Regions from separate parts of the Homo sapiens genome. Here all the other regions are linked to region 3. The links come from fine-mapping of genetic effects on gene expression. A gene starts in region 3. Each other region holds a variant in brackets. All regions are shown on one strand. Distances are from middle to middle.

Region 1 (5,962 bases), 20 kb before region 3:
CTTCCCCCTCGCCCTGCCTCTGGGACCGGCTCACCTCTCGGACCCCAGTTTCCTCGTCTGAGAGACGGGCTCAGCCCCGTAGCCGGAACCGAGCTGCTGCCGCCAAGGACGGGAGAAAGAAAAAACGCTCAGTGCCCCTTCGCCGTTTGACACCGTATTGGCGACATCTGCCAATACAATCGGACCAGGAGGGGCGGCTGTAGACAAGAGCGGTGGAAAGGAGGCCGGGTGCGGGGGCTCACGCGTGTGATCTCAGCATTTGCGGAGGCCGAGGCGGGAGGATCGCTTGAGCCCAGGAGTTCTAGACCAGCCTGGGCAACACGGTAAGACCCCCGTCTCTACCGGAAAAAAAAAAAACAGCCAGGCGTGGTGGTGCAGGAAGTCGAGGCTGCAGTGAGCCGTGATCCCCACACCACTGCCCTCCAGCCTGAGCGCAGAACAAGACCCTGACTCAAAAAAAAAAAAAAAGAAAATGGGGGAAAAATAAGGCCGGGCGTGGTGGCTCACACCTGTAATCCCAGCACTCTGGGAGGCCAAGGTGGGTGGATCGCCTGATGTCAGGAGTTCGAGACCAGCCTGGCCAACATGGTGAAACCCCATCTCTACTAAAAATACAAAAAATTAGCTGGGTGTGGTGGCGGGTGCCTGTAATCCCAGCTACTCGGGAGGCTGAGGCACGAGTCTCTTGAACCCGGGAGGAGGAGGTTACAGTGAACCAAGATCACACAACTGCACTGGAGCCCGGGTGACAGAGCGAGACTCCATCTCTCTCTCACACACACACACACACACACACACACACACACACCAGTGGAAAGCTACATTCGGTCAGACTATCAGGTGATTTTTGAAAAATCAACATGAAAACCAAGGGTCTGGAGATGAATCAATGGTGTGGGAAGTCAGGGCAATTCCCCTTAGCAAAGGCAGCTTCTAAGGACGGCAGGAACGTTCCAGCTTCGTTCTGTGTGGTGGTTACACCACGTTCCCTTTAGGGACCAGCTATCGAGCTGTGCCCTTATGACCTGGGGCACTTTTTGGTACTTTTTTTTTTTTTGAGACGGAGTCTCGCTCTGTTGTCCAGGCTGGAGTGCAGTGGCACAATCTCGGCTCACTGCAACCGCCGCCTCCTGGGTTCAAGCGATTCTCCTGTCTCAGCCTCCAGAGTAGCTGGGATTACAGGCGCCCACCACCACGCCCGGCTAATTTTGTATTTTTAGTGGAGACGGGGCTTCACCATGTTGGCCAGGCTGGTCTCGAACTCCTGACCTCAGGTGATCTGCCCGTCTCGGCCTCTGAAAGTGCTGGGATTACAGGCGTGAGCCACCACGCCTGGCCATATGTGGGTTTAAAGATTTGACTTTGCAACTCCTAAACACCTAAATAATGACTAAGTAGCGTGGGTTGCCAGGGGCTGGGGACGGGGAGTGAGCTGGTGACTAACACCCCAGGTCTCCTTTTGGGCCCATGAGAATGTTCTGGAGTGAGGCTGTGGTATCGGGTGCAGCACTCTGTTAATACTAAAAGCCACCGCATTTTATGCATTTTGTGGTCTGAGTGTTATATCTCTACAAATGAATGAATGGAAACCGTAGTCATCAAATGCAATTAAACATTCTTGGCGAAGCGAACCGCAGTGTGTGCCTCCTGGGAGCAACGGGTGTACACGCCCCCCCAGAGGCATTCCCGGGGCCCGAGGTCCCTAGTGTCAGGCCCGTCCTGCCCGCCTCCTCGCCCAGCTCCTCCAGCCCCTCCTCGGGGCCTCTGCCCGAGCCAGGTGCTACACCGGGGACACCCTGCCTGGCTCACACACGGCCTTGCTGATGTCGCCTCCCCGTCCTCGTCCCTCCCCGCTTCCCAGAGCTGCTCTCTGCTGCCTGCGTGATCACGGCCGCCATCCCTAGGCCCCGCTTCCTGAGGGTGGGACCTTCAAGCACACGGCAGGGCACGCAGTCGGCGCTCAATAACTGTTTGATGTGTGTTGTGGGTTGAACTACATCTCCCAGAAAGACAGGCTGACATCCTGACCCCCGGTTCCTGTGAATAGGACCTTATGTGGAAATAGGGTCTCTGCAGACATGGCCCAGTTAAGGCGAGGCCACGAGGAACCGGGTGGGCCCTGATCCAACGACGGATGAATTTACAAGAAGAGACAGAGACACACAGGGGAGAAGGCTGTGAGCAGATGGAGGCAGAGATCAGGGAGATCAATCTGCAAGCCAAGGGCGCCTGGAGCCCCAGACGCCGGAAGAGGCAGGAAGGATCCTCCCCAGGGGCTCCGGGGGGGTAGCACGGCCCGGCCCACGCCTTGATGTTGGGCTTCCGGCCTCCAGGACGGTGGGAGGCCGAATCTCCGCTGTTCAAGCCACTCAGCCTGTGGGTATTTGTTCCCGCAACCCTGGGAAACTTGCCCAGGGTCACTCAGGCTACCGGAACAGAGCTGGGAGTTAAACCCGCTCCAATCAGCCTCAG[T/C]GCCCCCAGGACCTGGTGCTCAGCGGGGCCTCTGCGGCTCCTCCCTCCCCACCCCCTGCCCTGCTTCTGCCCCGCCCTGTCAGGCACAGACCCAGGCAGTTCTGCTAAGGGGGCAGCGGGAAGCAAGGCGGGGGTGGCGGGGGTCCTGGGGGTGCAGAGGCTCACGGGGCGGGGAGGGGAGGGTGTGTACGCAGGTCTAGCTCGAGTCCCTCCTGCTGCAGCCTAGGCACCTCGCCTCCCTCAGGGACCGGCTCCTGGGCTCCAGGAGAGGGAGGCCGGCCCTGTACCGGAGGCTGCCTCCCGCCCGCCCGGCGCCCGCCTCACCTCCCGCAGGGGCCCGTTGAGCTCGCCCAGGATGCTGTCCTCGTCAAACATCTTGCCCTGGTAACGGTGCTCATAGTAGTCGTGGATCTTCTGGCGGAAGTCAGCTGGCAGCTTGTGGAAGGACATGTACTGCTCCACCTGCTTGTACTGTGGGGAGGAGGCGAGGCTGGGTCAGACACCGCCCCCGGCCTGCAGCGGGCACAGGGGCACCTGCTTGTACTGTGGGGAGGCGAGGCTGGGTCAGACACCGCCCCCAGCCTGCAGCGGGCACACGGGCACCTGCTTGTGGGTCAGACAGCCCCCCGGCCTGTGGCGGGGAGATAGGCCTTCACACCTGCTTGTACTGTGGGGGGTCAGGGCTGGGTCAGACAAAGCCCCCGCCCACAGCGGGGAGACAGGCCTCCGCCACACACAGGGGCGGCCAGATTCAACAAGAGCAAATAAACATGCTTCTATTTAAATCAAAGTTGAATTCGTTTCAATGATAAATTCCATTTTTTTTTTCTGAGACACTGTCTCGCTCTGTGGCCCACGCTGGAGTGCAGTGGTGCAATCACAGCTCACTGCAGCCTCCGCCTATGGGCTCAAGCAATCCTCCCACCTCAGCCTCCTGAGTAGCAGGGACTGCAGGTGTGCGCCACCACGCCTGGCTGATTCTTTTATTTTTTGTGGAGATGAGGTCTCGCCATATTGCACAGGCTGGTCTTGAACTCCTGGGCTCAAGGGATCCTCCCACCTCGGCCTCCTGAGTAGTGGGGATTACAGGTGTGCACCACCCTGCCCTGCTAATTTTTTAATTTTTTGTAGCGATGAGGTCTCGCCGTGTTGCTCAGGCTGGTCTTAAACTCCTGACCTCAGGCGATCGGCCTGTCTCGGCCTCCCAGAGTGCCGGGATTACAGGCAGGAGCCACTGCACCAGGCCGGGTGCCCTGAACTTTATCTAGCAACCCTATCCCTGAGGAATGGGTGGGCACCTGACTCTACGAGGAGAGGCCCCAGGTACCCTGACACACAGGACCCCCTTCCCGGGGGCTCTGGCCCTTCCCTGATGATCTTTCCAGAAACCATCGGGTCAGCCCCTCCTGAGCAGGGAAGGGAGCGTGGGTGCTGGGCGGGGGTGCCAGGCCCTGCTGTCCCCAGGACGGTGCCCCCCGGCAGCTCCAGCCTCACTTCCGCCCCAGCCCCGCCCGGCCGCAGCTGCCCTGAGCTCAGCGGAACCCGTGACGGCGGGCGGGTGGTGGCACCAGCTTATGTTTGGGTGTGAGGCCCGTGGCTTCCGGACAGCAGGGCGCCTGGCACGGGGCCCAGCTGACCCAGCCAGCCACTGCTCGGGGCGCGGGAGAGGGGGGCACTTGGCTCCCAGCCAGGACCAGCCAGCCGCCTAACATGGGGAAACTGAGGCACAGAGTGGTGCATGAGGCCCAACTCCAGGGGCTGCCAATGGGGCCAATCCTAATCTCCCTCCACCCCTCCCAGCTCCCCCGTGTCCCCTCCACTGCCAAGCCTAGGATTAACCCAATGGACGCTGCAGGCCAGAGGCCGCATCTGAGCAGTGGGGCAGCCTTGCTCTCCCTGAAGCCTGGCCCTGACTGCCGGCCACCGGCGTGTCCTGAAGCAACCCCAGGCCTCTCAGACCCCGCCAGGCCCTTCCCTAACCCAGCCCCATCCTGAGCCGGCCTAGAGACCCCCAGGTGGGCCCAGCCTCCTGGCAATGCCCCTTCAGCCCGGGGGCTTCCCGATGTCCAAAGACTGACCCTGTCCTGCCCTGATCCCAACTCACCCCTTCCTGCCCAGCCTGCATCCCCTCCCCAGCCCCCGCCCCACGTCCATCTCCAGGCTCTGGACCTCCCTCCCTGTCACAGGGTCAGAGAACCTCTCACCACCGGCCGTTTCTCCTCCTAATCACAGCCACAGACCCCCAGGGTCCCCTGCTCCCCATCACGCGGTCTCTGCCCTGAGCGCGCCACTTGAAGCTGAGTGAAGGGCTGAGACTGCCTCTCCCCTCAGACCCCGGGGCCGGGCCCGCCCCTCCCCTCAGACCCCGGGACAAGGACTACCTCCGCCCTCAGACCCCAGGGCAAGGCCTCCCTCCAGCCTCAGACCCCAGGACCGGGCCTGCCTCCCTCCATCAGACCCCAGGGCCTGGCCTGACTCTCTCTCAGACCCCAGATCCAGGCCCGCCTCCCCCATCAGAACCCAGGCCGGGGCCCGCCTCCCTCAGACCTTCTCCTGGTACTGGCGCCGCGAGGAGTCCAGCGACTGGATGAGGGCAGTGGCGTGGCCGATGAACATGGCGTAGCAGGTGGCACCCACAATCATGCTGAGCATGGTCAGCCAGATGTCCGTCATGCTCTCGGGCGCCTGCCGGCCGTACCCGATGCACAGCATGTGGCTCATGGCCTTGAAGAGTGCGAAGGAGTACAGTTCACTCCACGAGTGGTTCTGCAAGGCCAGCAGGAGGGGCGGTGGTGGGCAGGTGCTCACGCCCCAGGAGCCCTCGGTCCTCAAGGGCCCAGCGCCCACCCTCTGCCAAGCACTGGAGGTGGTGAGCTCCCCATGTTCAGAGGTAACCAAGAGAAATGGAGACCCAGGTAGATGACATGGTTTGCACACTTGTCACAGTGAGTTGGCAGGAGGGCCAGGGCTGATTCTACCTGCCCGCTTCACTCCTGGGGAAACTGAGACCCCAAGGGCGAGAGTCTGGGTCCCGCCTTTTGCAGCCTCTGAGATCAGAGCATCTGTGAGGTCAAGAGGGGGCAAAAGTTCCAGGGAGCATCTGGGCCAGAGCAGAGGGGCAGGGCGGGCAGAGACACCAGGCCGGCCCAGGAGGTCCTGCCGCACCAAGTCCTCAGCTGACCCGGCCGGGAAAGGGGAGCCGCGGGGCTCTGTTCAGGAAATGGGACCGCATGTGCGGGTGGCAGCCAGACAATGGGCTGCCTCAGCCTGGGCAGCTGTGCCAGGCTCTGGGGAGGGGCACTGGCGGGTCTTCCCTCTGTAGCTCCTGACCCCATCAATGCCCACCTGCTCTGTGTCCAAACCAAACACATCCCAAGTCCCATATGTGGCTGGACGCTGGGGCACAGCACTCCCCAGGCAGGGACAAAGGCTCACTGGCCACTAACCTGACTGTAGCGGCCGAGGGCTCCCATAACTAACCCTTCTTAAC
Region 2 (4,923 bases), 26 kb before region 3:
GCCAGGTCTTCAAGAGTCTACAGGAGATGTTCTCGGGGACCCGGGCCATCCAGGTACGTCCTGTCCTGTCCCCGCTCGGCCAGGACTCCCTAAGCAAGTGGACGGGATCCCCGGCCTGAGCCCCCTGCCCTGAGACGGCCTGTGTCCCACAGCACTGGCTGACCGAGAGTGCCCGCCTCATCTCCCACATGGGCTCTGTGGTGGAGTGGGTCACACCCCTGGGCGTCCCCGTCATCCAGCCCTATCGCCTGGACTCCAAGGTCAAGGTCAGTGTACCACCCCATCCCTCCCCAGTGTGCCACCATCCCAGTGTAACAGCGTCCCAGTGTACCAGTGCCCCAGCGTACCACCACCCCAGTGTACCACCGCCCCAGTGTGCCACCCCATCCCGCGCCAGTGTGCCACCATCCTAGCGTGCCACTACCCCAGTGTACCACCACCTCAATGTACCACCACCGTGCTGGGCCTCGGGTGGGACTCACCGGCCCCTTCCCCTTTTTAGCAAATAGGAGGTGGAATTCAGAGCATCACCTACACCCACAACGGAGACATCAGCCGGTGAGTGGGGGGCCCGGGCTGGGGCCTGGCCGGGGGTCTGGAGAGCAGCCACGGTGGAGACAGCGGCCAGTTAGGGGTGTCCCTGGGCCGCCCCCACCGGCACCTGTTCCGTCCTCAGAAAGCCCAACACACGTAAGCAGAAGAACGGCTTCCCGCCCAACTTCATCCACTCGCTGGACTCCTCCCACATGATGCTCACCGCCCTGCACTGCTACAGGTGGGCGTCTCCGGACGGCGTGGGTGCCGCTCGCCTCCCAGGGGCGTCTTCTGGCTAGCAGGGCACAGCTGGCAAGGCTGGGTCTAGCTGGGGGCAGGGACTGGGCAGAGTGGATCTGCTGTGTCTGTGGGGCCTGTGTAGAGGCCCTGAGGCTGTGTGCCCCGAATGTAGGTGGTCCTGGCAGCTCCCCTCCTGTGGCCCGACAGGGAGAGCCGAGCATGGGCGCTGCCCCTTCCTGCTGGGCATTTCTTGGCACCGCGATGTGTGGTTAGATCTGGAGCACGTGGAGGTCGTTCCAGCAGAATCTACCGGCCACGGGAGCTGGGAATGCTCAGGATGCGGGGTGGTGGCCCTGGCAGGAGGGGACCTCGTAGCCGCCCTCGGAGCTGAGGCTCCCACAGCAGCGTGGGGGGCGGCAGGGGTGGGGCGAGGAGGCTTCTGGGAACATTTCCTCCCCCTGTACTGATACCTAACCCAGGATGTTTGGGGAGGGGCGGGGCGAGGGGTGGGGCGAGGCCTGCAGGAGGGTGGGCTTCCCTGGACCTCAAGTGGAGGGGGCTGAGCGCAGGGCCAGGATGCTGGTCACTGGGTGGCCCTGTGAGCTCCCCTCCCTTCAGGAGTCCTCCGCTCTGCCACAGGAAGGGCCTGACCTTCGTCTCTGTGCACGACTGTTACTGGACTCACGCAGCTGATGTCTCCGTCATGAACCAGGTGCCCCCGTAGTCTGAGCCTCAGTCCACCCATGGGTGGGGCCCCCACACTGGGGCGTTGGGTAGGGGTGGTGCCCAGAGCCTGCCTGATCACCCCTGGGGATCCTCTGACTCCTGCCCAGGTGTGCCGGGAGCAGTTTGTCCGCTTGCACAGCGAGCCCAT[C/T]CTGCAGGACCTGTCCAGATTCCTGGTCAAGCGGTTCTGCTCTGAGTAAGGCGCTCCCTGACCCCAACTACCTGGATTCCCCCCCCACCCCAAAACCTGGCCTCAGCCTCACCCCACCCTGCTTCCAACCCCAGGCCCCAGAAGATCTTGGAGGCCAGCCAGCTGAAGGAGACACTGCAGGCGGTGCCCAAGCCAGGTAGGCGGGTGGGCAGCCTCGCAAGGGTGGCTCGAACTGCGGGCCAGGGCGGGGCTTTCCCGCCACCCACGCCGTCCGCTCTGCTTCCTCCGCAGGGGCCTTCGACCTGGAGCAGGTGAAGCGTTCCACCTACTTCTTCAGCTGACACCCCGTGAGCCTTGTCAGTGTGTAAATAAAGCTCTTTTGCCACCCCCAGGAGCCACTGTCTTCAGGAAGGGTGCACGCCCTGCGGGTCTCGGGCAATCACACGCGGCCAGGCTTGGCGCCAATGCTGTCGTTTATTGCGCGGAATGGGGGTGTGGGGGTTAATGGGGCGTGGGGGGCCACGGTGGGGGCACTGCTGCCTCGGCTCGTCAGTACATTCATCACGGCGGCGGGACCCCAGCCTCCCCCCCGCGCCCTGCGCAGCCAGGCCTGCCTCTCGGTGCCAGTGCTGGAGGGAGGCGGGGTGCTGCTCCCCGAGGTCACCGGGGGACGCGCGCGGACGGGGGCCGGGCCGGTTATTGCGTGAGCGCGATGGGGGCAGCGGGAAGCCGGCGGGCCAAGTATTGCACTTAGAAAACGATCCTCCTCGGACGGGGGCCACCTAGAGGGTGGGGGGCGGGCGGGGCTCCACAGCCGGCTCCTCTCAGCCACTGGGCCGCCCCGTCCCTGTCTTACAGCTGGGGGAACTGAGGCACCGAGGTGAAGGGAGCCCCCTCGCACGCGAGGCCGCCGCCGGGGGCAGGGGCGATGGGGGTGGGCGCGGGGCGATGAGGGGGGACGGCCGGGGGCGCGGAGGGGGCTGCCCCGCCGGCCCTGCCCGTCCGTCCAACTACGGCTACCTACGTCTCGTCTATGGCTTCTGGGCGGACTGGCGGCCGGGGCAGCGCAATGGCATGGCTTTGGTCTGGATGACGGCCCCGCCCCCGGCCCGCCTGGGCCCGCGGGGCGGTCGGCGAGGGTCACAAGTTGGACGAGAGGCGCGAGCGCGCGGAGTCCTGGGGGTCCAGGCCGCCGGCGGCGCCGGGTGAGGCCGAGTCCCTGCGGTCCGGGCTGGGCGCGGCGGCCCGGGCAGCGGGCGTGGGCCCCAAGCGCGGTGTGGAGCTGCTGGCCGGGCGTGTGGAGGCCGCGGGGCCGGGGGCGCCGTGAGGCAGCGAGGGCTGCGAGGCGGACAGTGGGCGCGACGCGCGGCTCAGGCGGCGCGCGGGCAGGGCGGGCCCAGCAAGGGGGGCGGCGGGCAGGCCGCCGTAGGGCGAGGTCCGCGGTGCCCGGGGGCTGGCGGGCGCGCCCGGGGGGCTGGCGGGGGGCGGGGGCCCGGGTGAGGCGGCGGCAGGTGCGGGCCCCGGGGGCGGGCGGCGCACGAGGCGCGGCGAGCCGAGCGCCAGCGGCCCCACGAGCGGCCGCGCCACCTGCGGGCAGAAGCTCATGGCCGCCGCCTGCTGCAGCGTGGCGATGGCCGAGGTGACCTGCGGCGGCGGCGGCGGCGGCGGGAAGAGGCCCACGCGCTGACCCAGCTCGGCCTGCTGCACCATCTCGCGGTCGTACTTGACGATCTCCTGGATGATGGCGTTCTCCTGGTTGTTGAATACGCCCGAGTTGAGGTCATGCTGCACCTTGTGCAGGAGGATGGAATTCTTCTTGCCTGCGGGAGAGGGGGCGTTAGCGTGTGCACAGGGAGCGCCTGCTGCGTACAGCGGGCACCGAGCACCTACTCTGCACCGCGGGTGCGCACACAGTGCTTGCCGTGTAGAGCAAGCATGCATTTACCACCTACTGTATACAATAAGCACATATGTAGCATCTCTGGCCTATAGTATGGATATTGAGTACCTGCCATATACAGGCTGAGCACCTGCTATGCACAGCCAGCATGCATGAAGCACCTGCATACAGAAAGCAGGGCTTTTGTTTTGCTTTGTTTCTGAGACGGAGTCTTGCTCTGTCGCCCGGGCTGGAGTGCAGTGGCGCGATCTCGGCCCACTGCAAGGTCCACCTCCCGGGTTCACACCATTCTCCTGCCTCATCCTCCCGAGTAGCTGGGACTACAGGCGCCCGCCACCACACCCGGCTAATTTTTTGTATTTTTTTTTTAGTAGAGACGGGGTTTCACCATGTTAGCCAGGATGGTCTCAATCTCCTGACCTCGTGATCCACCCACCTTGGCCTCCGAAAGTGCTGGGACTACAGGCGTGAGCCACCGCGCCTGGCAGTAAACAGGTATTTAATGCCTGCTGTGTACATGGAGCAGGTATCACTGTGCACCAAGTATGCATGTGTACCACCTGTATACGCTGATTATGTAATGACTGCCTCCAGTGTGCCACAGGCATACCGAAAACACCTGCCTGTACACAGCCTGTGCTGAGCACCTGCTGTATACAGAAGTTATAACCTAAGCACCTGATACTCAGGAACGGGTTGCATACTCACTGTATAGAGCAAGTTGTGGAGAGCTTCCTACTGTACACCAGGGAGCTCCCTGACACCACTCCGTCGCACCTGTCCTGCGTTTCAGCCATGGTCTTCATTCCCATTCCCACGAACAGCAGCATGAGCCGCCATCTCTCTGGCGCCTACATCCAGTCATCAGGGCTCTGCCCCTCCCTGCCCCAGAGACTGCCCCCCTGAGAGGCCAGGTCACCGTCTCCCTCCTGGACACGGCCCGCCTTGGCGGATACAATCTGACCAGGTCCTCCGCCCACCTAGAACCCTCCATGGCTCCCTGATGCTCCTGATTTAGTCTAAACTCTCCCTGCCGCCCACTGGGCCCTGTGTGTCTGGCCTCCCCTTCTTCCCCAACCTCCTCCAGGCCTCCCTGGCTCTCTGGACTCTAGGCCTCTTTTCCACCTCAGGGCCTTGGGATGTGCTGTGTCCACTCCACGAACACATCTTCCTCCCCGTTTCCACATGGCATCCCTTACCCTGGTCTCCACTCTGCATTCCCAACTCAGGGAAGCCCACCGGCCCCACCTGCCCTGCTGGCACACAGCCCAGTCGTGTGTGATTTCATCACCAGTCCATAAGCCTCCCTGGGAGTCTGAGTGGGCCCCCGGGTCTGTCCCCTGCACCCCCAGCACACAGCAGGTGCTCACCGAGC
Region 3 (4,881 bases):
AGACAGCTGGGCAGCGAGGAAGAACCGGGGTGAGGGCGTGCCTGGGGGGCACAGGCTGGGCAAGGAGCACAGCACTCTCTCAGCAGGAAGGGGAGGTGAAGAGAGTGTGAGACGTGAGGCTGAGACACTGGCAAGGCTGTGAAAGACCCCATCCTTCTCCCTCATACCATCCCCACCGTGCAATTGGGGAAACTGAGGCAGAGGGGCCCAGCGAGGACCCAAGACACCCAGCCAGGCACAGGAGGCCTTGGGCCCGAAGCCAGTTGGGGCCAGGCTCCTGAGTCAGCTGCAAACGTAGAGGCCCCTTCGCTTGCTGTGGGCTGCCCCAAAACACCCTCCACAGCAGGGTCCGGCCGCCTGCTTAGGGAGCTTTTGAGATATTCTTGGGGGTCTTTTTCCACACTGATTCCACACTGGCACAGGTCCCAAGCCTGGGGAGGGTCCTAGGGGCCCCGTGCACCCAGCTTGGCAACATCGAAATCCTTTTTTAAAATCTGACTGCCGTGACTCCCCTAGTCCCGAAGACAGGCCCCGCTAACCCCATTCCCTGCCTGCTCAGTTCCACTTCAACACTCATCTGCCGGGGTGGGGCTGCACTTGGTCCACACAGGGGCCTCTGAGCCCTCTATGCCTCAGAGCACAGAGCGGGGCCACAGCCTGCCCAGGCCTCCAGGCGACCACGCCCAAGGAGGGTGGAAGGATGAGAGGGCTTCACTCCTACCACCGGCCTTCCCCCCAAGCCCCGGGATCAGCCATCTGCCCACCTGCCCCCCAGGCCACCGACCGCCCCTCTGCAGCCAGGGGGTCGCTGGAGCTGCCCAGGGGAGGGAGTGGCTGGTGTGGGCCTCCACCTGCCAGCCCCCACGCTGCGGTGCACCCATCTCTGTCGAAGGTCATGCTGGAGGGGACGGAGGGGAGTGGGCACGTTCTACAGCTCCCTCTCCACCGCGTCCCTCTCCGGTCAGGGGGTGCCACTGCCCGACTGGAAGTGGGGCCAGGCCGACCAGCAGCCCTGGAAGTCCAGTCCTTCCCGCTCACTGTCCACATTTCGCAGGCCAGAGCCCAGATGCTGACCAAGCTCTCCCGGTGGGGCACAGAGGCAGGGTGGGAGGGGCCGGACACAGCCCCTCTGGGGATTTCGGGGCTCCTCCCACCCCTGGCCTGTCTCGAAATCCAGGCTTCTGGTCAAAGCTGTATTCACCTCTCAGGAAGGCCTGGGGTGGGAGGAGGATTCCAGGGCCTTCCTCCAGGCTCTGTCCAGGACGCATGTGCCCCAGGCCTCAGTTTCTCCAGTCAAGCACTAGGGGTGCAGAGAATCCAGGGGAAGAGAGAACCCCACAGCCTCCCTGCCCAGTTCCGGGGGTCCAGGGTCCGTGGGGGCTGTCCTGGGGCGCCCAGGCCTGGAGGAGGAGAGACAGGCGGGAAAACCGCAGGCTTCCCAGGTCCGGCGCGCTGTCCGTGGTGCTGAAACCGCGCCCGTCCCGCGCGCCCGGCCTCGCTAGCCCGGCGGGCCCCACCTACACCCTCCACCTGCACCCTCCACACCCCACCTCACACCCCACTCGTGGATACACAAACACACACGCATCCCTCCATGGTCGCGTGTGTGAGACCTGCCTGCGGCTCACACTACTGCCCACCGGTGCACACCGGCCCCGGGCGTACACGCGCACGCCCGCCACCTGGTCCCAACACACACAAACCACACGTCCCACCAAAATAAACCCACCGGAGGCGCACACGCCCGCGACCACCACGCAAACACACTCCTGGAGACACACCTCTCCGGCCACAGGCTCGCGCCCCGGGAACCCCGCCGCGGTCACGGGCCCCTGTTCACACACAGCCCACGGGGACACGCGCCGGTCTCGCTCTCCGGCCACAGCACGCACAGCCCAGGAACCACGACCGCAAACATCAGTGGCGGTGGCCCCGCGCCGGCCCTGCTCCGAGCCTTCCACGCATTAGCCGGCTGGATCCACAGCGGCGTCTACACACCCACCGCCGCATGCGCGCACCGCCCGCGGCTCGGGTGGAGCGGCTCCCGGGGACACAGCCTGGGGACCCGCACGCTTTCCAGGCCCGCGGCCCCGGGCGCGCCTCCTCGCAGGCGGGGCGCGGGTGGACGCCGTGGGAGCCGCTTAACCCCCTCTCCCCCGGCCTCCCTGGGGCGCGTCCTTCCCGGGCGCCCTTCGTTCCTCCTCCCTCCCGCTCCGCCGCCTCTCTGGGGCCCACGTTCCCCTCTATTCGTCCTCTCTGCCCCTCTGCGCTCAGACCCTGGCCCTGCGGCCCACCCCACCCGCCGCGCCGCAGGGCGGAGGATGTCGGGGTGCGTGGGAGGGGGGCGCTCCGCGGTCACCCGGGGAGCCCCCCCAGAGGCGGAGCCTCGCGCGCCGGGGTCACTCCGGGGCGGGTCCCGGACACGCCCGAGGTCACCGAGGAGCCCCGAGGTCACCGGCCCGGCGCGCCGCCCCGCCCTCCCCAGGCGCTCCAAGGACGGCTCCCCGCGCGCCCGGCTCCCCGGGCCCCCTCGCGCCGACCGGCCCTCCCGGAGGCGGTACCTGAAGTCGCTGTACGGGTGGATGATCCAGGCCCCCGCCGACTTGACGCGCTCCTGCTCGCGCTCCACGGCCTTCTGGCTGCCGAACATCCGCAGCGAGAACTTGTTGACGCCCGGCTGCAGGAGCGCGCCGAACTGGCGCTGCATGAAGCTGGCCTGGCTGCCGCGCGGCTCCCCCGCCGGGCCCGCCTCCTCGCTGCCCGCCTCCTCCGCCGGCCCCGGCCCCGGCGCGGGCCCCGAGGCCGCCCCGCGGCACGAGAACGACACCTTGGGCCCCCGCGCCGGGCCCTCGGGCCCCGCGGGGCTGCACTGCGGCTCGCCGCGCCCGCACTCGCCGTTCGGGCTGCCCTTGGCCGTGCTCGCCGCGCCCGGGGTGCCGGGGCGGCCGCACGAGCTGTCGCGGCTGCGGAGCCGGCCCCGCGGGCCGCCCTCATCCGCCGCCTCCGGGGGCAACGCCTCGGCCCGGGGCGGGTGCTGGGGGGGCGCGGGCCCGGGGCCCGGGGGGGGCGCGGGCGGCGGCGGCGGCGGCGGCTGCTGTTGGGGGGGCGCGGGCGGCGGCGGCGGCGGCGGCCCCGGCGCGGGGGTCGCGCCCGGGCTCTCCCCGGGCCGCCCGCCGCCCCCGCGCGCGTCCATGGCGAGGCGGCGCCGGGCAGTGCGGAGCGGAGCCGCCGCCGCCGCCGCCGGCCGGAGCCCGAGGGAGGGGGGAGGCGGGGGCGGGGCGGGGCGGAGCCGCGGGGGGCGGAGCCTCGCGGCGGGGGAGGGGCGGGGGAGGGGCGGGGGCGGGAGACCCGCCTCGGCTGCGCCCCCTCCCCGCGCGCCGCCTCCGCTCGGCGCCGGGAAACTCGGGCCGCGGGGTCGGGGGCGCCCCAAGGTCACGCGGCCCGAGGCCTCGGAGCCCCGCGCGGGCCTCTCCCCAGGAGGGGAAACTGAGGCCCGCGACGTGTAAGGACGCGCCCAAGGTCACCGGGCCCCGCTGCCCGGCCGGAGCCGCCTCTCCTGCGCCGCGGCTTCCACCTCTGTCCGGAGGGCACCGGCGCGGGGAGGGTGGACGCGGGCCTGGGAGACGGGAGAGGCCGCCACGGCCAGCGCCTCCTTGCTTTCTGTGAGGTTTGAAGACTTCCACGACGAAAGGGTGTTTCTAAAGGTCACAGGAGCCCTTGCTGGGTCGCCTGTGGGCCCTGGACAGAGACCCTTGAGTGCGTGGGGAGGGGCAGGCCGGCTTGGGCGCCGTTCTGGGAGACTCAGGCACTCCTCTCCCTGGTCTGCATTTGAGGAAACTGAGGCCAAGCCCAGCCAGACAAGGAAAACTGGAAAAGCCACCCGAGGGTGTGGGGTTCCCACCCACCCCTCAAACAGTGCCCTGGGGAGCCGTGCGGCGGGGGTCTCCTCTAGGTCTGGTGGGCTTTAGATTGGGGTCACAGGGAGACCCAAAGCCCACTAGCGCCTTCGCACGGGTACCAGAGCCCCCTGCCCCGGGGTTGCCTCCTTTCCCCGACCCCTCGGACTCCGGGTGCAGCTGTGCCCCCAGTGCCTCCAGTCCCCAGCTCTGAGACAGGTGCTTCCCAAGGCTCTGCTTCTGGGCCGAAGCCGGCTGGGCGTGGGTGCTGCTTGGTGCCAGGTGACATGAGGCCTCTGTCCCTAGCCACCCAGCCCACCAGACAGCCGGGAGGGGGCAGGTGAGGAAGCTGGCAAGTGAGAGAGAGGAGACAGACAGTCACACTCGAAGAAGTGGAGGCTGAACATCCCCACCTGGAGGCAGGAGGCCCTCCTGGGACCCTCCTGGCACCTGGCCTGACGTCCTCTCAGCCACGATGTCCCGTGTGCCGGGTGCCCCCCACCCATCTGCACCTCGAGGCCACCGGGGCAGAGATGGCCCTCTTCCTACACCCAGGAGGCACTCAGTGGTACTTGAGGGAGGGCCAGCATGTGCCCGGCTGACAGTGGATGGGCTGAGCCCGACCGTGTCTCTCGCCTCGGCCTGGCTGCCCCACACCCTGGGGATCCCTGCGCCCCCACGCCGGCCCCGCCGGCCACCTCCGCATAGGCGGGCAGGACAGCTGTTTGTCCCAAGGTGGTGCGGGAGAGGCCGGGCGGGCGGCACAGTTGGCAGTGCCAGGCTGTGGCCCGCCCCGAGGCAGATGCGTGCTCCAGCTGAAGGGGGTTCTTTTATGTTCACCCTGGGAAGATGTCAGGCCGGGCAGGTCGCCAGAGCCCCAGGGCTCGCGGCTGGGAGCAGGGAGGAGGCGGGACCCGCACGGCACGAGAACCGCCCATGCCTGGCAGTGGGAGAAGCAGAAAGACGCCTCCTGCAGGCGCCGGCA
Region 4 (5,962 bases), 61 kb before region 3:
GATTACAGGTATGAGACACCGCGCCCGGCCAGCACTTTTTTTTTTTTTTTTTTTTTTTTTTTTTTTTTTTTTGAGACGGAGTCTTGCTCCCTCGCCCAGGCTGCAGTGCAATGGCACAATCTCAGCTCACTGCAACCTCCGCCTCCCGGGCTCAAGCAATTCTCCTGCCTCAGCCTCCCAAGTAGCTGGGATTACAGGCGCCCGCCACCACACCCGGCTAATTTTTGTATTTTTAGTAGAGACAGAGTTTCACCATGTTGGCCAGGCTGGTCTCCAACTCCTGATCTCAGATGATCCGCCCGCCTCGGCCTCCCGAAGTGCCAGGATTACAGGCCTGAGCCACCGCGCCCCCGGTGATGGCGGAGCGTGCCGAGAATTCGTGGGGCGTGGGCTGAAACGCATGTGGTGCCTCCCGGCCTCACCAGGAGCCGGGCCGCACTTTTTCTATATTGTAGATGGTGCCTCTTCACTCTCCCCTCACGGTGGGTTCATGTGCATCTGGCATCGTTTGCTCACCCTGGCCTTAGTCCCTCCCCACCCAGCCTGTGCTTCAGTGGCAGGAGCAGGTGAGGCAGGCACGGCGTGGTGTGGGCGGGGGCCCAGCTGTCGGCCCTCCCCTTGGGCACTGCACGCCAGACCCCCGCTTCTCCCCAGAGTCAGTGGGTGAGGCCGGGATCTTGCTTGCTGGAGAGGTCCCAGCCCCTGCCCCTGCGAAGACTGAACAGCCCCGGTGCAACCTGCATCCCCAGAGCCTGGGGTCGACCTTGGCTCCCCTCACAGCACTCCCCCATGCACGGTGGGAGCCTTGTCTCCTGTTTTTGTCTGTGTTACCTGGGGGTGGTCTTGGGACCCCCATGTGAGCCCCTGGCGTGATGACACGTGCCGTGTGAGGCCATTTTCACGTTGCTGCGATGGAGCACTTGAGACTGGGTCGTTCATAGAGAGCAGTTGATTTAGCTTCCAGTTTCCAGTTCTGCAGGCTGTGCGGGAAGTGTGTGTCGGCATCTGCCCAGCCCCTGGTGAGGCCGGGAGGCACCATGCACGTTTCAGCCCAGGCCCCACGAATGCTCGGCACGCTCCGCCATCACCAGGGGCCCAGCCATCCATGAGGAGTCCGCCCTGTGAGCCAGTGTCTCCAGCAGGCCCTTCAGCCCTGGGGATCCCGTTGCAGTGTGAGATCCACAGGGGATGGCATCCGTCCTGCTCGGCACAGCTGTGGCTTGAGGCTGGTGCTGGGGAACTGTGAACGTGGTTTTGGGACTCACCCACGGCTGTCCCTGGGCAGGGTCCTCACGTCTCCTCTGGGACATCACCATGTTGGCCTTGTGTTGTCCTTGGCTCTAGGGGGACCTGGGGATGGGGTCTTGCAGGGGTGTGGCCAGCGTGGACGTGGCCTCCCCCGAGCCAGGGGAACGGGCTGTGTGCGGGGCTGCCAGAGCGTCCTGGAAATGCCACTGTGGGGTATTGGGGCACCCCTCCGAGTGGTGCCACCTGTGTGAGGAGGTGCCCAGGCACTGGTGACGCCCGTCACGGTGGGGCAGGTCGGAGGGGCTCAGCCAAGGCGCTGATGACGCTGGTGACGCCCGTCACGGTGGGGCCAGGTCGGAGGGGCTCAGATCGCCGGGAGCCACCAAAGGGTCAGCGGGTGGCTGGCAGAGGCCAGGTCCCCTCGGCCGCCCTCCAGGACCCACGGGTTGGGAGCCACCCTGGCCTGCGTGTGCCTGGCCAGCCAGAGACCGCTGGGTCCGGAGCCCCTCTGTCCTCACACTTGGGGGGGTTTGCAGGTGATGCCGGCGTCACCGTGACCCGGCCTCCTGTTCTCTCCTGCAGGATTATATCTGTCCAAGATGCGAGTCTGGTTTTATCGAGGAGCTTCCGGAAGAGACCAGGTAATGCAGCCCCCTGTTGAAGAGGCTGGAAGAGCCAGCCGGGCCTCAGCTGTTGTAGGGGTGTGGGCTGTGCTGGCGTCCGCCCCGCCGAGTGTGGGGCCGTCAGGCCCTGGTGTCTGTGGCTCCGGGAGCACTTTTCTCTGTGCAGACAGCAGCGTGCCGTTCTCTTCTGTGATGGCCGGGCCGGGGCCAGAGGGGAGTGCCGGCAACCTGTGCAGCCGCTCACCTCCCTCAGCCTCGGCGGCTAATCTGGTGACCCAGGCCCTCCGGGGAAGGGGCCACGGGGGCCCTACCCACATTCTCACGCTTAGGAGGCTGTTGGGGTCTGCACCGGTTTATCGAGAAACCCGTGGTTTACTGGCGAGGGAAGCAGCAGCGGGTTACGGCACCAAATGCTGGGGCGGTGGCGGGTGGGAAGCAGTGCCAAGGACAATTCCTGCTCTCCCAACATAGGCTTTTGAGGGGAGGGAGCGCCTGGCGCATGGGGGCACAGGGTAGCCGGCACTGCTGACCTGCACTCTCTCCCCAGGAGCACAGAAAATGGTTCTGCCCCCTCCACAGCTCCCACAGACCAGAGCCGGCCACCGTTGGAGGTGAGTCGCCCGCCCCTCGTGCTTCCCGATCGTGTCAGCCTTGCTCGGGGCCCCGAGCGCCAGCCTGTCCCCACCTCGCCTCCCCGGCTCTCCCTGCCCGCACGGCGGAGGAAATTTTTCCCTCCAGGGGCCCGGGCCAGGGATTGGGGCGGCCCACGCTGCTTGGTTGGTTTCTTGGATGAAAGCGAAACTTCCACCGAGGCATCTCACACCAGCGGGGCAGGCTCTGCCCAATTCCTGCCTCCCTGTCTGCGTCTCCCTCCCACCCGGCACCCAGCAGGGCCCGTCTTGCTTTCTCCTTTGTCTTTGTGCCCTAGCGCCCCCAGCAGACTGCACGGGCCTGAGCCCCCGAGGTCACGCCCCCCTCCTCTCCCCAGCAC[G/A]TGGACCAGCACCTGTTCACGCTGCCGCAGGGCTACGGACAGTTTGCTTTCGGCATCTTCGATGACAGCTTCGAGATCCCCACGTTCCCTCCTGGGGCGCAGGCTGACGACGGCAGGGACCCTGAGAGCCGGCGGGAGAGAGACCATCCGTCCCGGCACCGGTACGGCGCCCGACAGCCCCGCGCCCGCCTCACCACGCGGCGGGCCACCGGCCGGCACGAAGGCGTCCCCACGCTGGAAGGGTGAGGGGGCCCCGGGGGTGGCCGCGAGGGCCCCACGCCTTGAGGTCGGAAGTTCTGGCGCTTAGAATCCAGCACGGGTTCCACGGAAACGTGGCATCATCCATAGGCTCTCTGGAGAGGCCGCCCGGCCAGGCCCTCCAGCCCCCTGTGACTCCCCACACGGCCCTTCGGAGACAGAAGTATGCCGGTTCAGGGTGTGTGGGTTGACCACAGAGTGGGGCACCGTGTGCCTGCCAGGCCCACGTGCTCTGGAGACTGCTGTCCACACGCGTGTCGTCAAACGCTGTCCAGGCCTTGGGCCCAGAACAGAGCCTGGGGGAGCCGTCGCAGGGCCCCACTCCTGGTGGAACGGAGCCTGGGGGAGCCGTCGCAGGGCCCCACTCCTGGTGGAACGGAGCCTGGGGGAGCCGTCGCAGGGCCCCATTCCTGGTGGAACAGAGCCTGGGGGAGCCGTCGCTGGGCCCTGCTCCTGGTGGAACAGAGCCTGGGGGAGCCGTCGCAGGGCCCTACTCCTGGCGGTTGATGCTTTTATGGTTGTGTGTCTCACCTGCTGGAAATGTCATCTTTAAAAGTGGCTAATTTTGCCAGGCACGGTGGCTCAGTGCTGTATTTGCAGTTCTCTGGGAGGTCAAAGAGGGAGGATCTCTTGAGGACAGGAGTTTAAGACCAGCCTGAGCAATGTAGGGAGGCCCCATCTCTAATTTTTAAAAAGTAGCTGAGGCTGGGTGAGGTGGCTCACACCTGTAATCCTAGCACTTTGGGAGGCCGAGGCGGGCAGATCACTGAGGTCAGGAGTTTGAGACCAGCCTGACCAATATGATGAAACTCCGTCTCTACTAAGAATACAAAAATTAGCCAGGCATGGCGGTGGGCGCCTGTAATCCCAGCTACTCAGGAGGCTGAGGCAGGAGAATCACTTGAACCCGGGAGGCAGAGGTTGCAGTCAGCCGAGGTCGTGCCATTGCACTCCAGCCTGGGCAACAAGAGTGAAACTCTGTCTCAAAAAAAAAAAAAAAAAAAAAAAAAGTAGCCGAGAGTGGTGGACCTCTTCTGTGGTCCCAGCTACTTGGGAGGCTGAGGCGGGAGGATCGCTTAAGCCCAGCAGGTTGGGGCTGCAGTGAACCAAGATCAAGCTGCTTCTCTCCTGCCTCGGCATTAGAGTGAGACCCTGGCTCATAGTAAAATAAATAAATAGAAGCTAATCTAGAAGCTGATGCTGGCCCTGCCCTTGGTGCTCACCACGGACCTGGCAGGCCTGGCGCCTCTCCTGTGCGTGGGGCGGCCTCACCCCGTGACTGGCGCTCTCTTTTCCAGGATCATCCAGCAGCTCGTCAACGGCATCATCACGCCCGCCACCATCCCCAGCCTGGGCCCCTGGTGAGTGGGTGGGGGTGCCTGTCCCCATCCCCAGCCTGGGTCCCTGGTGAGTGGGTGGGGGTGCCTGTCCCCATCCCCAGCCAGGGTCCCTGGTGAGTAGGAGGGGGTGCCTGTCCCCATCCCCAGCCTGGGCCCCTGGTGAGTAGGAGGGGGTGCCTGTCCCCATCCCCAGCCTGGGCCCCTGGTGAGTGGGTGGGGGTGCCTGTCCCCATCCCCAGCCTGGGCCCCTGGTGAGTGGGTGGGGGTGCCTGTCCCCATCCCCAGCCAGGGTCCCTGGTGAGTAGGAGGGGGTGCCTGTTCCCATCCCCAGCCTGGGCCCCTGGTGAGTGGGTGGGGGTGCCTGTCCCCATCCCCAGCCAGGGTCCCTGGTGAGTAGGAGGGGGTGCCTGTCCCCATCCCCAGCCTGGGCCCCTGGTGAGTGGGGTGGATAGACGCACCTGCCCCAGCTGCCCGTCAGCCACTTGAACCCCACCTTCCACCTCCAGGGGAGTCCTGCACTCAAACCCTATGGACTACGCCTGGGGGGCCAACGGCCTGGATGCCATCATCACACAGGTACAGCGTGGCCACGGCCCAGAGTGCCTGCTGGGGGAGGGCTGGGCTGCCCACCCCTGGGAGCTGCCCCACTGCCTGGACCCACGAAGCCCCACAAAGGTCAAAGGGGATGCGGGCACAGCCTCCACGCTCTGGCGGGCACAGGGGGCAGCTCCGGCCTTCCTCCTGCCATTTCTGAGTCTTGGCAACTTTGGGGGTTCTCCTGTGTTCACGCGGAACGTTGTAGCAAAACCGCGGGGAGGACTCGCCCACAGTCACATGGTCAGGAGGCCACGCGGTCCCTCTTCCCGAGAGGTCGCGCCCTGACCTGCTTCCAAGTGCCACCCGTCTCAGCCTTGCTGAGGAGCCCTTGGAGCATTTTGTCACTGGCAGGACCCGACCCTCACAGTAGCCCACCAGCCGGAGCACGGCCCCCCCATTCCGCCGTCAGGGCACTCAGGAGCGCGGCCCCCCCCCCCATTCCGCTGTCAGGGACCCAGGAGCGCGGGCCTCCGCCCATTCCCCCATTCCACCGTCAGGGGACCCAGGAGCGGGGGGGCCGCGTGGGCTCCACAGTGATCTCCGACCCCGGGCGGGCTCCAAGGGGCCCAGGGCCCAGGACAAACGCGGCCTCGGTGCTTTTGCAGGTCCTGCAGCCTCGCGTTTCAGAGCCCCGGGCCGGGCCCCCGAGGAGCTCCCGGCACTCTCGCCTCTTGTCTTTCAGCTCCTCAATCAGTTTGAAAACACAGGCCCCCCACCGGCAGATAAAGAGAAAATCCAGGCCCTCCCCACCGTCCCCGTCACTGAGGAGCACGTAGGTATGAGAGCTCAGCCTCCCGAGTAGTGGGAATTACAGGCACCCGCCGCCACGCCTGGCTCATACTTGTATTTTCAGTAGAGACAGGGTTTCACCATGTTGGTCAGGCAGGTCTCGAACTCCTGACCTC

Evidence for each region. PIP is the estimated chance that this variant, and not a neighbour inherited with it, causes the effect.
Region 1: its variant is fine-mapped to the expression of HCN2 in whole blood (TOPMed, PIP above 0.99). The same link has a PIP of 0.9 or more in T cells.
Region 2: its variant is fine-mapped to the expression of HCN2 in esophagus mucosa (GTEx, PIP above 0.99).
Region 4: its variant is fine-mapped to the expression of HCN2 in whole blood (INTERVAL, PIP above 0.99).

What each region holds. Positions count from the first base shown.
Region 1 is chr19:607,240-613,201 of GRCh38, reverse strand. It overlaps HCN2 (hyperpolarization activated cyclic nucleotide gated potassium and sodium channel 2), which reads right to left. Exons shown (of 8, transcript NM_001194.4): 4 at 5,020-5,238; 5 at 2,797-2,943. It overlaps LOC107987266 (a long non-coding RNA gene), which reads left to right. Exons shown (of 2, transcript XR_001753828.2): 1 at 1-323; 2 at 2,048-3,262. Among named protein-coding and RNA genes, the nearest start is that of HCN2, 20 kb to the right of the region's middle. RefSeq lists an enhancer at 1,983-2,292. The variant T/C (reference allele first, on the strand shown) is at 2,473.
Region 2 is chr19:614,340-619,262 of GRCh38, reverse strand. It overlaps HCN2 (hyperpolarization activated cyclic nucleotide gated potassium and sodium channel 2), which reads right to left. Exons shown (of 8, transcript NM_001194.4): 8 at 2,104-3,468. The coding sequence ends at 2,789. It overlaps POLRMT (RNA polymerase mitochondrial), which reads left to right. Exons shown (of 21, transcript NM_005035.4): 14 at 1-53; 15 at 153-266; 16 at 503-558; 17 at 677-775; 18 at 1,414-1,486; 19 at 1,608-1,693; 20 at 1,783-1,844; 21 at 1,940-2,042. The coding sequence ends at 1,989. Among named protein-coding and RNA genes, the nearest start is that of POLRMT, 17 kb to the left of the region's middle. The variant C/T (reference allele first, on the strand shown) is at 1,649.
Region 3 is chr19:588,258-593,138 of GRCh38, reverse strand. It overlaps HCN2 (hyperpolarization activated cyclic nucleotide gated potassium and sodium channel 2), which reads right to left and starts at 3,258. Exons shown (of 8, transcript NM_001194.4): 1 at 2,562-3,258. The coding sequence starts at 3,193. It also overlaps the pseudogene LOC100420586. RefSeq lists an enhancer at 4,489-4,881.
Region 4 is chr19:648,753-654,714 of GRCh38, reverse strand. RNF126 (ring finger protein 126) reads left to right here. Exons shown (of 9, transcript NM_194460.3): 2 at 1,831-1,889; 3 at 2,419-2,482; 4 at 2,860-3,104; 5 at 4,419-4,481; 6 at 4,967-5,036; 7 at 5,740-5,833. Among named protein-coding and RNA genes, the nearest start is that of RNF126, 11 kb to the left of the region's middle. The variant G/A (reference allele first, on the strand shown) is at 2,863.